Linked DNA regions of Homo sapiens. The protein of the gene in region 1 purifies or fractionates together with the protein of each later gene. This does not show direct contact. Each region holds a gene or a part of one and is shown on either strand. Other genes may lie near its edges.

Region 1 (3,500 bases):
TCTGATTAAACAAACTACATATGTGGCTGGTTTGCAAGCGCTAAGTAAAACCAGGAGTGGCAGCTACTAAAATGTCAGCCTCCAAGGACCCATTGTAGTGTTCCTATGTGTGAAGGCCAGTGAGGAGAGCAGAGGTGGACACTGAGCTGAGACAGCGAGGACGGCTGTGGCTGCAATGTGGATTTAAAGAAAGCTAACTGGATTCCCCACCTGGCAGCATTTGTAGCCAATTCAAAACACAAGATTGTCAGGCCTCTGAGCCCAAGCTAAGCCATCATATCCCCAGTGTCCTGCACGTGTACATCCAGATGGCCTGAAGCAATTGAAGATCCACAAAAGAAGTGAAAATAGCCTTAACTGATGACATTCCACCATTGTGATTTGTTTCTGCCCTACCCTAACTGATCAATGTACTTTGTAATCTCCCCCACCCTTAAGAAGGTTCTTTATAATCTCCCCCATGCTTAAGAAGGTTCTTTGTAGTTCTCCCCACCCTTGAGAATGTACTTTGTAAGATCCAACCCCTTCCCTCAAAACATTGCTCTTAACTCCACCACCTATCCCAAAACCTGTAAGAACTAATGATAATCCACAACCCTTTGCTGACTCTCTTTTCGGACTCAGCCTGCCTGCACCCAGGTGAAATAAACAGCCATGTTGCTCACACAAAGACTGTTTGGTGGTCTCTTCAGACAGACACATGAGACAAAGATATTTACTGAATAATGTGCTATAACACATCAGATTCTGACTTCTTGGTTATGTATTGTTTAGTATTACAATAATTTAAGCCAGTGTCAAAATGATTAACAGAATACATACAGGTTAAGCATCCCAAATTCAAAAATTTGAAAACCAAACTTGAATAAAATCCAGAACTTTCTGAGTGGGGACGTAATGCTCAGAGAAACTGCTCATTGGAGCATTTCGGACTTTCAGATTTTCAGATTTGGGATGCTCATCTGGTAAGAAAAATGCAAACATTTCAAAATCCAAAAAAATCCAGACTCTGAAATACTTCTGGTCCCAAGCATTTGCATTAAGGGATACTCAACCTGTACTACATTACTTTAAGGGTCAGCAAATTTTGGCCCTCAGGCCAAGGATTCTTGTTTTCTTCATTTTTTGACAGTCTCTCCTCCCCATCCCATACCCTCTGTCTTATCTGCCCTTACCCCAGTCATCTTTGGCCCGGACTTCCTGACAGCCTTCTGCTTTCCTTACTTTCATTCTTGCCTCTGGCTGATGACCTGCTTTTGTTCAGCCTGTGAACTAAGAATGGCTTTTACATTTTTAAAGATTGTTAAAAAACAAAAAAACAAAAAAACACACAAAGACTATGTGAGAGACAGTACATGCCATCCACAAACCCTAAAATATAGACTATTTGGCCCTTTACGGAAAAAGCTTAGCAACTCTTGCTTTAAATATGCAAAGTACCTATCTATAAACACTCCTTTTGGGCACCTTTAATTAATATTTGTCTGCCAAACTAAAATAGATGGTGCTCTAAAGCTTTATTTGTAGATTATTTATTTGGAACTCAGAATTTATGTTCCCATTGAAATGATTATTTCAATATGTCTAAATAACATACAGGCAGTAAAACACAGTGGTGAGGGCTCTGTGTGATGCATCAGGACTCTAAAAGCAGCATGACCTTGGGCAAGTTACTTAACCTAGATTCTTCATCTGTAAAAATGGAGATAGTAATAAAACCTACCTCATAGGATATGAATTAAATAAAATAATTCCTTGGTACAGTGCCAGGCACTTACCACTAACATCATTATTCTCCTAGGCTGGTCCACTAACATCTGTCTACATATTACTCAAAATACCTAGAGTACTGTATATTTAAAATGTAAACAACCCAAACAGAAAACAACATTGTTGCAAAACGAAATAAAACTTTATTTCTACTGAATCCTAATGCCTAGCTAAATGACAAACATCCAGCTAGTGAACTGGTAGTTCTCACCTGCATAACTACCCCAATTCCAACCCGAGATATGCCTAAGTCCCAAGACAAAGTGAAGTGAAGGAGCACACCACCCTCCTGCCTGTACCCAGCAACTCTGCAGCCCCAGCAACGACATTCCCTCCTGAGGATGACAATTCTCGGCAGCTCCCCACTCAGAAACAGGAGGGAAAACCCTCGCTTTGGTAAGAGAATAGAGCAGTCAGAGAAAAAAGCTAAAAGGTTTGGCAACAGAGTGAAACACCACAAAAGTGAAAAAAACAGAACACAAAGGGGACAAGGCGGCCATCACGGTGCAGAGGTCAGGAGTAAAGTCTCTGGTGGCAGTTAGCCACTGAGATTTAGTGGAAAAGAACATCTAATGGCAACCATGACCACAGCTGACAGGAAAAGCACAAGGGAGGGAAAGGAGGCAGGCCCACCTAGCTGGCCAGCCAGCAACCAGGACGCACAAAGAGCAGATGGCAGCACAACCAGCAACTCAGTTACCAGGACTCCAGGGCACTGTGCGGAACAAGAATCCGGGCAGCTCAGGGAACATTTATTCTTCTGCAAATGGGGGGAAAAGTAACGTAAAAAGAAAACTAACATTTACTAGGCACCTACCATGCCAGCCACTGTACTTTAATTTACATATGAAGAGATATTTAAATCCTATTTACTCTTTAAAACAAGGCAGATGTTATTAGTTCCACTTAACAGATGAGGAAATAGCAGTTTAGTTTATCTCCCTACGCTACCCATCAATCAGTGCCACATCTGAGATGTCACTTCTATCCAACTCCAAGCCCAAGTTCTTTGCACTATCCAGAATGTCTCTCCAGAAGAGGGAAGGGCATTCTCGGAGCTGCCCCTTGGACAGGGCTGGGTTTTAAAAGCAAATGGGGACACACCTTTCTTTCTCCCTAACCTGCCTGTGAAGCTCTTCCAATGCTTCCATGTGAGTGATTACAGACCAGGAAGGGATCCCATCACATCCACAGAGAGCATAGGAAGTGGCCATTGAGAACCTGGCTGCACCGTTTCCTTCAGGTCACCAAGTTTGCCTTTACATAAATGAGTTTGCCTAAAGTATGCCTGTCACACTGCTACAGTCTTGCACAGAACAGAACACTGAATGAGAAATGTGCTCTCAACATATGGCCCAGGGCTCGGTAATGTTCACATCGACACTCTTACTTCCATAGGAATGAATGTACTTACATGGCAGGCTTACCAACTTCTGCTCCATAGAACAGAACTGAACACATCTCACAATTTTTCTTTCAATAAGTCTGTTTCCCCACTAGACTGAATTCTCTGAGGCCTGGACCATGTACTACCAGCATCTAGCAAATGGCTCTGCCTCTGCCCAAATTTTTCTCAGTCTGAACTGAAATATCTTCCCTTCTCTCTTATACATGTACTTAACCATGAAGCTTCTGCACAGAAGTCACTTCTTATAAGAAGTCTTCCCTGAATGCCAAGACTGGACAAAGGTAACCTACTAGCCATTTCTATACCCATATATACTGACCCT
Region 2 (3,500 bases), on another chromosome or scaffold:
CACGACTGTTAATTGTATTCATATGCACTATAACTTTACAAAGCATCTTCCCAAACCAAATATTTACTGATTTAGTATAATTTGTATGACTTTATTATAGAACTGACTTTCCAAGTGTTCATGAGAATTGTTTAGTATTTGCTACATTGTATCATCTCAGCTGTGTCCACATGAGCTATCTGTCACCTTGTCTTAATGAATAATTGTTCACTAGGAATATTGGTTTTGGCATTGAAATGATCTATATCTAAATGCAGATAGGACCCGGGACCACTTTTGAACATTAATGTCCAAGCATCTTAAAATTACACATAAGGCTTTCATAATCTGACTTCTGCCCCACTCTCCATCTTTAGCCCTTTTCCCTGTGTGCACTGTCTCTGGCATTACTGAGCTGCTGGCAATGCCCTACTCACTCATCCTTCTATTGTAGGCAAATACTTTCACTCTTTCAGGCCTCGCTCCCGCTCTTGCTGCTGCATGGTATGCCGTCACCCTTTCCTGCCCTCTACCCCTTTTAATCTGGCTAGTCTCAATATTTAAGTCTCTGCTTGGGCATGTGTTCTAGAAAAGCCATCTCTGACAGGCTTTATTTTAATTCTTTTTAAACCCTAATGCCTAGCATGTATTTAGCAGGACTCAATAAAATATTTCTGAGTAAAACAAAGACTGTTTTTACAAAGATGATGTGCAAGACTCTCCCCTGCAGTCTTGGAGCAGAGGGGACAGACATGTGGAGGAATAATGTACAGTTTAGGTGGTCAAGATGCAGTAGAAAAATCAGTAAAGTACTAAGGCAGCCTCAAGGAAGGAGGTACCTGTTTATTTGGGGAAAGACATGCAAAATCAAGGAAGACTTCACATAGCATTGTTTCAAAAGATGAAAATAAGGCCAGGTGTGGTGGCTCACACCTGTAATCCCAGCACTTTCAGAGGGGATCACGAGGTCAGGAGATCGAGACCATCCTGTCCAATGGTGAAACCCCATCTCTACTAAAAATACAAAAATCAGCTGGGTGTGGTGGTGCTTGCCTGTAATCACAGTTACTCAGGAGACTGAAGCAGGAGAATCACTTGAACCAGGGAGGCGGAGGTTGCAGTGAGCTGATCATGCCACTGCATTCCAGCCTGGTGACAGAGGAAGACCCTGGTTCATAAAAAAAAAAAAAGAAAAAAGAAAAAAAGAAAATAAATTTGTCAGAATAGTGGAGGGAAACATTTTAGATATTAGGAAGACGTTGTACACTAATAAAGGTGTCAGCAGTGATTTTGGAAATCATTTATAAGGTACTATTAGGAAGTGGAGAACAGTACACTGTGTCACCTTATATGTTTCTACTGTATTTTAAAGCTGTGTTTCTGGTGGTTTTGTTCATGGATGTTGGGTGGATGAATTTGTGAGGGAATTTTTGACATGTTTGTTTGTCTTCAATCTGGTGACATCTGGTATCTCCCCAAGTGGGTTTTTGAAGTTTTTGAGAATTATTTCTTAAATGACAATTTCACAAAAGATGAAACACTCAATTTATGAAATAAAATGAAATGTCTCAAATCCGTTTTTAAAAGGCAATAGTTTTTAACTGTTCTAAGTGGTTGATTTTAACTGAATATATGGATTTTTCAACAGAACAAGACTTAAAGCTGACATCAGAGGAAGAGTCACAAAGGCTTAAAGGCAGTGAAAATGGCCAGCCAGAGGCATGGAAACTTTTAAATTTAAACTTTTGTTTAATGTTGTGTGTTTTTTGCCTTAATAATAGTAGATAGTCCAAATGAAATTACCTTTCAGACTAGGCTTTGAGAATCAGTAGATTGTTTTTTTAAGAATCTTTTGGCCAGGCAAGGTGGCTCACGCCTGTAATCCCAGCACTTTGAGAGGCTGAGGCAGGTGGATCACGAGGTCTGGAGATCGAGACCATCCTGGCTAACATGGTGAAACCCCGTCTCTAGTAAAAATACAAAAACTTAGCTGGGCGTGGTGGCGGGTGCCTGTAGTCCCAGCTACTCGGGAGGCTGAGGCAGGAGAATGGCATGAACCCAGGAGAGGGAGCTTGCAGTGAGCCGACATCCACCACTACACTCCAGCCTGGGTGACAGAGCAAGACTCCATCTGAAAAAAATATATATATATATTTTAATAGGTTCTTAAAATTTATTGTAATAAAATCAGCAACCTTCTTAACAGAAGAATCAATAGATTCTAATTTAATATTTGATATTTAACTTCAACATAACCCACTATAAAATTTAAAATACTCTTATTTTAAAATATTCTTATCTGCCTTCTTGATTAGCTTATAGCTAATCTCTCCTTTTGGAATAGAGGCAAAAACAAATTTCAGAACTTTGTTTGTTCTTTTATTTTTACAACACCCTAACATGATAAAGAAAGTAACATCAATGATTGAATCATATTATTAAGCAATAGGAATTATGAACAATGTAACACTGATTCCCTGAGCTGGATTCATGGTTAAAGAGTAATCATGGCCTGTGATTGAAAATCCACAGTTTTATATTGTCAGTCACTGATACCAAGGTTAAGGACATATCCTGCCTTGTGGTCTCTCGTTGACCTCAGTGTTTCTGTTCAGGGAGGGAACCAGGTCATAAAAGCAACCCAACTGCCTATTACAAGAACCATATCTTGCAGAATGGGACCTTTGGTGTTAGTGCACAAACACAATAACATTCTAATTTATTTCAGTTGCAGAAAATCAGTACAGATTAAAAAATTCTATCTGCTGTCATTAGTACACATTAGAATATATTAGAACTGGACTTACGCAGATAATCTGGATACATAACACTATCATATGACAGTATATAATTTCAATTAAAATGTGAGAATTTGCATTTCTTTCTGTTTGGTGTTGATTTCGGCTCCTAATAGTTTAAAGGGTGCCTACAATCCAGTTAGGAATCTTTTAAAAAAGCACTTCAGTGCACTGTAGGGGCTCACTAGTTAGGGTTTCATGAGGTAAACTCTTTTCAAGTGAGGAAGATTTTGGAACACTACAAATCATCTGCTGATTCATTTTTGGTAGATTTAACACATAACAAATTAAGTTTAGTCCAAACAAATAGTGAGAAAGTTAAGTTTGCTGGTTCATGTTTTTCTTCTCCCTTTGTCTAAGGTGAATTATTTTTCACATGTTAGAAGCCAGTGATGTGGCAGTAGCTAAACATAGATTAAAAAGTTAATTCTTAATTTTAATTATTATTTATTTAAACAGTTTAATTTTAATTACTTTCTAATTTTTATTGTCCATACTTGATTACTTCAGAATAAAATTATTTTAAAAACATGCACTCCAAAAGAGGAAATGTCACAGAAATACAACAAGCAAATTAACCTTCTGTTTTTACATCTGCAGAAAAGATCTCAAGAACCAGAAATAAATAAGGATGGTGATAGAGAGGTATACCTTTATATTCAAATGTTTGTGTTGAATTAGATTTTTACATTATGTTGTTTAACAAAGTGTAGTAAATGTAGG
Region 3 (3,500 bases), on another chromosome or scaffold:
TAGTGCACTAAGTTTGAAAAGCTGAATGAAGCTTACTATAGTAAAATACCAGTTATTAAAATTGGCTTGCAGAAATTCGTCCAATATAAGTAAACAACCAATAGCAACCAGGTGTAAATAGTTTTATAGGCTAATTCTACCAAACCTTTAAGGAACATATAATTTCTGTGTTCTAGAACTTGGGAAAAGATGGAGAGTTCAAAACTCACACCGTATGCCTAGTATAACCTCAATGCCAAACCAGACGTGGCACGCACAGAAAAATAAAATCAGACCAAAGTCATTTGGAAAAAAAATTCCTATATTTATGATTCAAAACTCAGTTATTTTATAAAATAATAATATTAAGTGGATAAAGAAACGCCAGTTGTACTATCAGCTAAACATTAGAAACCTTCTCATCAGGCCAGGTGAGGTGGCTCATGCCTGTAATCCCAGCACTTTGGGAGGCCAAGGCGGGCGGATCACCTGAGGTTGGGAGTTCAAGACCAGCCTGGCCAACATGGAGAAACCCTGTCTCTACTAAAAATACAAAATTAGCCAGGCATGGTGGCACATGTCTGTAAACCCAGCTACTCAGGAGGCTCAGGCAGGAGAATTGCTTGAACCCGGAAGGCGGAGGTTGCGGTGAGCCGAGATCACGCCATTGCACTGGGCAACAAGAGCGAAACTCCGTCTCAAAAAAAAAAAAAAAAAAAATCAAAATCAGAAAGAAAATGCTTGTTAAAACTTACGTTATTCTCTCTGATTCAGAATACCTAGAGCATGGACTTGAAACTAGGTAGTTTACAAAAAACAAAACAGAAAACATTTGTATTATTCCATTTTATTTTAGAAGTCCTGGCCAATGCACTAAGCAATAAAAAGAATTAAAACGTATAAACATTGAGAAGAAAAAACAAAAATAGTTTTGCAAATGACTTGATTATGTACTTAGAAAATATGAAGGAACTGAAAATTTATTGTAGCCAGTAACAGGAATCAGAGTGTTTGCTGTAAGAGAAACAAAAAATTGTATATATCAGCAATAACCAACAGAAGCTGTAATGACAGCTGGGTACAGTGGCATGCACCTGTAATCCTAGCTTCCCAGGAGGCTGAGGCAGGAGGATTGCTTGGGCCCAGGAGTTCATGGCTGCATTGCGCAGTGATCAAGGCTGTGAATAGCTACTGCTCTCCATCCTCAGCAGCACAGCAAGACTCCATCTCTACAGAAAGAAAAGAAAGGAGGGAAGTGGGGAGGGAGAAAAAAAAGAAAGAAAGAAATTTAATGGTAGGTACCAAGGATGGGGATACCATTGACCAGAGAAAAGGAAGGGAGGGAGGGAGGGGAAAAAAAAAAAAAGAAATTTAATGGTGGGTCCCCAAGGATGGGGATACCATTGACCAGAGAAGGGGTAAAGAAGAAAAAATGATGGACAAAATATGTTTAAATGTTGGCACTATTTGGACTGACACTTTTAACCATTATTTACTCTTTGTTAACTGTTTGGAGTTAGTAAAACAAATACATTCTCTTTTGTTAATTCATACATAGATATTCTGCCTCCATGGTGGCCTCTCTCCATCCATAGACACACTGGATCATATAAGAGCCCTGGATCGTTTACAGGAAGTTCCACATGAGGTAAACTTAATTTAAAAAAGAAGAAGAAAGGAAAAGAAAATATAACCACATTTTGAGGATGATAAAGTATGACTGATAATAATTTGTAACATGTACTTATTTTTCTTGGCCAGGGCCCAATGTGTGATCTGTTATGGTCAGATCCAGATGATCGTGGTGGATGGGGTATTTCACCACGTGGTGCTGGCTACACATTTGGACAAGACATTTCTGAAACCTTTAACCATGCCAATGGTCTCACACTGGTTTCTCGTGCCCACCAGCTTGTAATGGAGGTATGTACTTTCCTGACAGAATGATCTTTATTTCAGATTAGTATATACTTCTGTAATAAGGCATTATGACTTAACTAAGAAACATTCCTCACCATTTATTACCTAGGTGAAAAGAGGAAAAACTTGCTGGTTTTAGCAAGTAGGGAAAGCACTAGTAGACCAGAGCAGAATTATAACTCATTTTTGAAATTGAGACTTAGAAAAAAGTTACAAAAATAGTACCCCATAATTCCCTGTATGCTTCATTCAGATTCCTGACTGTAAATATTTTACTATATTTGCTTTATCATTTTGTGTCTCTCTTCCTCTTCACCCCTCACACTTTCTTCTGAACCATTTGAATATCTGTTGCAGACAGATACTCCTTTACTACCAACTTTCTATGTGTATTTTGTAAAATTAAGGACACACTGTCACATAACCACCGTATAGTTATCACAGTTGGGAAATTTGTGTTCATATAGTACTGTTATTTAATATGAACACTTTATTCAAATTTTGCTAATTGTCTCACTAATGTCTTTAATAGCAAAATTTAATTTTTTGTGCATACTGTATGTGCATAGTCGAATCCAAAGATTAGGTTGTATTCATTCTACTTTGATGTGGAAATCCTCCGATTTTCATTGTTTTCCACATTCTTGACATTTTGGAAGAGTAGGAGCATTTTATCTTACAGAAATATCCCTCAGTTGGGGTTTGCCTGATGTTTTCCTTGCAGTTAGGGATTCAATGTATGCATTTTTGGCAGTCATGACATAGAAAGATGGTGTGTCCTCCTCCGTGCATTGTATCAAGTGGTCCTAAAATCTGCTTGTCTCAATGCTGGTGGTGGCAACTTTAATTGCTTAGTTAAGATGATGTCTGCCAGATTTCTCCACTATAATATTAACTGTTATACAACTACTAAGGGAACATAAACAACATAATCCCTGCAGACCAGTAGGGAGTGGCTTCAAGATGTTTAGAGAAAACTTCGCCAGCCCAGTAGAAACAAGGGAGCATGATAAAAAAAACACAAATTTACATAGTAAAAATAAATTTAATTATATCAGTGATTATAAGAAAGAGACTAAAATTTTAGCCTGAAAGAGACTCTTAGATTGGATAAATAATCAAAATTTAGCTGTTATTTGGGATGTACCTAAAACATAAATGATTGGCTGGACAAAGTGGCTCATGCCTATAATCCCAGCACTTTGGGAGGCCGAGGTGGGAGGATCTCTTGAGTCTTGGAGTTTCAGACCAGCCTGGGCAACATAGTGAGACCTCATCTCTATATAAAAAAAAAAAAAAAGTCAAAAAGTTAGCTGGGCATGGTGGCATATGTCTATTGTCCCAGCTACTCAGGAGGCTGAGGTGAGAGGGTCACTTGAGGCCAGGAGGTTGAGGCTGCAGTGAGCTATGATCGTACCGCTGCACTCCAGCCTGGGCAAAAGGGTGAGACCTTGTCTCAAAAAAACGAGGAAAAAGAAAAAGACACCACAAACTAGAGGTAAGAGTTGGAAAATGGTATATTGGTATATCAAGTAATTAATCAAAATATCAAAAATATAGCTAATGAGCTGGCGTGGTGGCTCGTGCCTCTATTCCCAGCA
Region 4 (3,500 bases), on another chromosome or scaffold:
TTTCAAATTTTAAAATTATTGTTGGCTGGAAAAATTATAAGGATGATTGTAATCATGGTTATTTGTTTATTCTGTATATGTTCTACATGCCTATTATGTGCCTTATATAGTACTAAGGACTGAGCATATGGTTGTGAACAAAATAAGAAGTTAACTGCTGGATGGAGCTTATAGTCTTGGGAAATATACAGAAAGATTACTAGTAACTGAGGTGGAGGGTGGGTGGGGATTTGAGGAATAGTGACGAAAGGGTGTTATAGAAGTAATTTTTGACAAAGCTGAAGGCTAAAATATGAATGTATTGTTGAAGAACAAAATACATTGAGATTCCTGAGAAGGTAGGAATGTGATACAAATGGATCAGCCTTTGAAAGGAGGAATACCCTTTTCCTTTGTGTTAGGAGAGGAGGATGAGTGGATGAGCGTGGGAAGAGTGGATGTGTATAGAGGCTTTTATGTTTGTAGGCATAATGCTTGGAAGTTGAGGGGTTGGTGATGACATCTTCTGTTAAAAAGAGTGGGAAATGGTGTGGTCACATTTTAAGGAAATTAGGTAAAATTTGAAATATATTGGAGACAGGACTGGAGAGTTGGGGATCTGGAGTCAGACAGATTTGAGTTCTAGTCCTGATTCTTCTACTCGTTAACTCTCTGAACTTGGATGACCTATTGTTTTTGATTGTATATCCAGCTCCTGGGAAAATGCCAAGCACTTTCAATAAATACTAAATGAATTATGGAGTTGGATCAGTTCTGTGTTAGTGTTTAGCTAGGTAGCTGCTGTAGAATAGAAGGGTAGCACAGTTGAAGATATTGGTAGGAAAGTGGTTGAAGTGATGATTATGAAGTCTTAACTGAATAGATAAAATCAAGATTGGGGTTGGGTGGGCAGAAGGGTAGGGATATGGAGGGAGAAGATGAGGGGTTAGAGTGTCCTGTGAGGTCGAAGGACAGGCATAGTGGGAATAATTGAAAGAATGTTCTGGTTGGACAAGGATCTGATGTGGGTGTGGGAGTGAGAGACTATAGTGAATTCAAGAAAAAAATAGACTAGAACAAAAGTTATGTGGAGATTGCTTAGTGGGCATTTGATAGACATCTGTGGGCCACATGCTTAAATTCCCAGTGCATTTTGCGGAGTTACTGGAAGGTTGGTGGCTTGTTTCTACCATGAGTAGGTAAAGATGGAGAGCAGGATATTTTGTGAGAAAGCAGCTGAAGTTTCTATAGGATGATGGAGGAATGATAGGAATGATCACCTGAAGTTGCAGGGTGGGGTAAACCTAGAAGCACCAACACCTTCTTCTGACCCTCATGTATTTGGAATCTGAAAGAATGAGCACCTTCCAATTGAAAGAGTTCCAAGGGCATTAGTATACTAAAGGATCCAAATTGCAGCTAAGCCAAGGAGATGGAAAGGAGGATTCAGTAAAGAATCTGAGGATGTGAAATATTAATTTATCTTGGAAGAGAATTTTAGAGAGCACAATGGAATGCTTTTTGGAGGAGAGAAAGAGTAAGAACAATTTGGTTAAGGTAGAGGAATAACAGAACTATAAGGTGAAGAAATGAATGTGAGACACATTAGATGACCAAATGATTTGATGTTCTTGGCCATGACCTGAATTAACAAGACTGTGAGGTAAAATGGATTTAATCGGCTACAAATCTTAAGATAACCAAAACCTGAGCTGTTTAATATGGTAGCACTAGCACTAACCACTTGTAGCTATTTATATTTACATTGGTTAAAATTAAAATGAAAAATTTAGTTCTTCAGTTGCACTAGCCACACTTCAAATGCCCGAACATAGCTACATGTAGCGAGTGGCTATTGAACTGGACAGCACTGACAGCATGTCCATTATGCTAGAAAGTCCTATGGGACAGCACTGGTCTAAACAGTGCATGGTATGAGAGAAAGGGCAGGTTAAGGCACTCAGCTTCACTGACTGGGGTGGAGATTCTGATGGTTTGTACTCAGGTTCCAGATCCCTGAGGCTCAGGAACCTTTGCAGTTTAGTCTGGTTACCTGTGGCCCAGTGGTTACAACAGAATGATTAACAGTCAATTCTTTGCATCTCTGGGTGGCTCAGGAAAAATTTAAGGAGTTATTAGCTGTGAACTAACCTTAAGTAAGTTAAATTAAAAAAAAAAAAGTTCTTAAGCTAATATGATTTTAAATATCTGCACTGAAGTATAATGCAAATTTAAATTCAGCATAATTATTTGCTTGTTGTTGACTCATTTGAACCTCAAAATATAATGGGATTAATTTATACTTTGGGTTTATTACTTTAAGATGGCTCAGCAGTCTGCAGGTGGACGAGATACTCGGTTTTTACGTAATGAAATTTGCCAACTTGAAAAACAATTAGAACAAAAAGATAGAGAATTGGAGGACATGGAAAAGGAGTTGGAGAAAGAGAAGAAAGTTAATGAGCAAGTAAAGCACTTTTTTTTTCCATGAATCTTCACTGTTCAAGTTACCTGGCTTTTTATTATTATTGGTAACAATATCAATTTTTATATTGTATGTTATATTTGAAAAATGATGTACACTTATCTCTAAGGTTTTATATCACTGTTCATTTTGTCATCACCAATTTTAAAATATAATGGTACTTCTAGTGAATATGACTTGAAGATTAATTCTTTATATTTGGAAGTACATTTTTCTCAGGACATCAAACTTGTTACCTAAAATTAATGCTTTTGTCTGGAAGATTGGTATCAAGTAACTAATAGATTTTCATAAAGAAGTGATCTTTCTAGTGCCATAGTTTATTTTGGGTAAAAGTTATATTTGTTCATTTCAATGTATTTATATGATTAGTAGATTCGCAAATGAATCTTTCGATATATTCAATAATGGTTAATTAAATATCTTGTTTTTGGTTGTACCTTATTTTATGTGAGATATATATATATATGTATAGTTTTTGAAAAGTTGTGTTCATGTCAGCAGTTTATAAATCACATATTTAAAATAACATTTTTAATGCATAGTTTTTATTACCTCGTTATTCCTTGTTATAAACTAATAATTCTTGCAGTGTTCACTTGAATTTAGTTTTAGGAAAAAAGTTTTTTGCAGATCAACTTGTATTTCCTGGAAGAAAATTTCCTATTTTACCTCAGCTTCCTATTTAATGTATTATTTATTTATTTACTTAACATTTATTTGTTTTTTATTTCACCTGAACTGTTAGTAAACTTAGTAAAATTTGGTGCCTACATGTGGTAACTGTCCTGTCCCTTATACTCAGAAACGTTTTCCACCTTTGTGTCCTTTAGGTCATTGTTGTGTTATATTCCATTTATTTTATTTTGTCCATTGTTCTCTCAGAAATTGAGGGTCATACATTTTAAGAAAACAATGATATGCTATTTAAGAGAATGTATCATAAATTGATTTGTAAGGAAAAGTATCCCCATTCTTCATGTATGTATTTTACTCTAAAATGTTGAAGAATCATATAGAAGTTAGCTATGAAAAC

Evidence for each region.
Region 2: the proteins of CEP43 (region 1) and POTEI purify together in Homo sapiens (affinity purification with mass spectrometry; 3 studies listed by BioGRID and IntAct, with this or other methods). This does not show direct contact.
Region 3: the proteins of CEP43 (region 1) and PPP2CB purify together in Homo sapiens (affinity purification with mass spectrometry; 6 studies listed by BioGRID and IntAct, with this or other methods). This does not show direct contact.
Region 4: the proteins of CEP43 (region 1) and CEP290 purify together in Homo sapiens (co-immunoprecipitation; 2 studies listed by BioGRID and IntAct, with this or other methods). This does not show direct contact.

The regions. Positions count from the first base shown.
Region 1 is NC_000006.12:167,026,897-167,030,396, reverse strand, and holds part of CEP43 (centrosomal protein 43), read right to left. Parts: intron 1-3,500. UniProt on the Homo sapiens protein: Required for anchoring microtubules to the centrosomes. Required for ciliation.
Region 2 is NC_000002.12:130,474,829-130,478,328, reverse strand, and holds part of POTEI (POTE ankyrin domain family member I), read left to right. Parts: intron 1-1,627; coding exon 1,628-1,698; intron 1,699-3,377; coding exon 3,378-3,422; intron 3,423-3,500.
Region 3 is NC_000008.11:30,792,319-30,795,818, reverse strand, and holds part of PPP2CB (serine/threonine-protein phosphatase 2A catalytic subunit beta isoform), read left to right. Parts: intron 1-1,537; coding exon 1,538-1,627; intron 1,628-1,740; coding exon 1,741-1,902; intron 1,903-3,500.
Region 4 is NC_000012.12:88,135,589-88,139,088, reverse strand, and holds part of CEP290 (centrosomal protein of 290 kDa), read left to right. Parts: intron 1-2,302; coding exon 2,303-2,446; intron 2,447-3,500. UniProt on the Homo sapiens protein: Involved in early and late steps in cilia formation. Its association with CCP110 is required for inhibition of primary cilia formation by CCP110.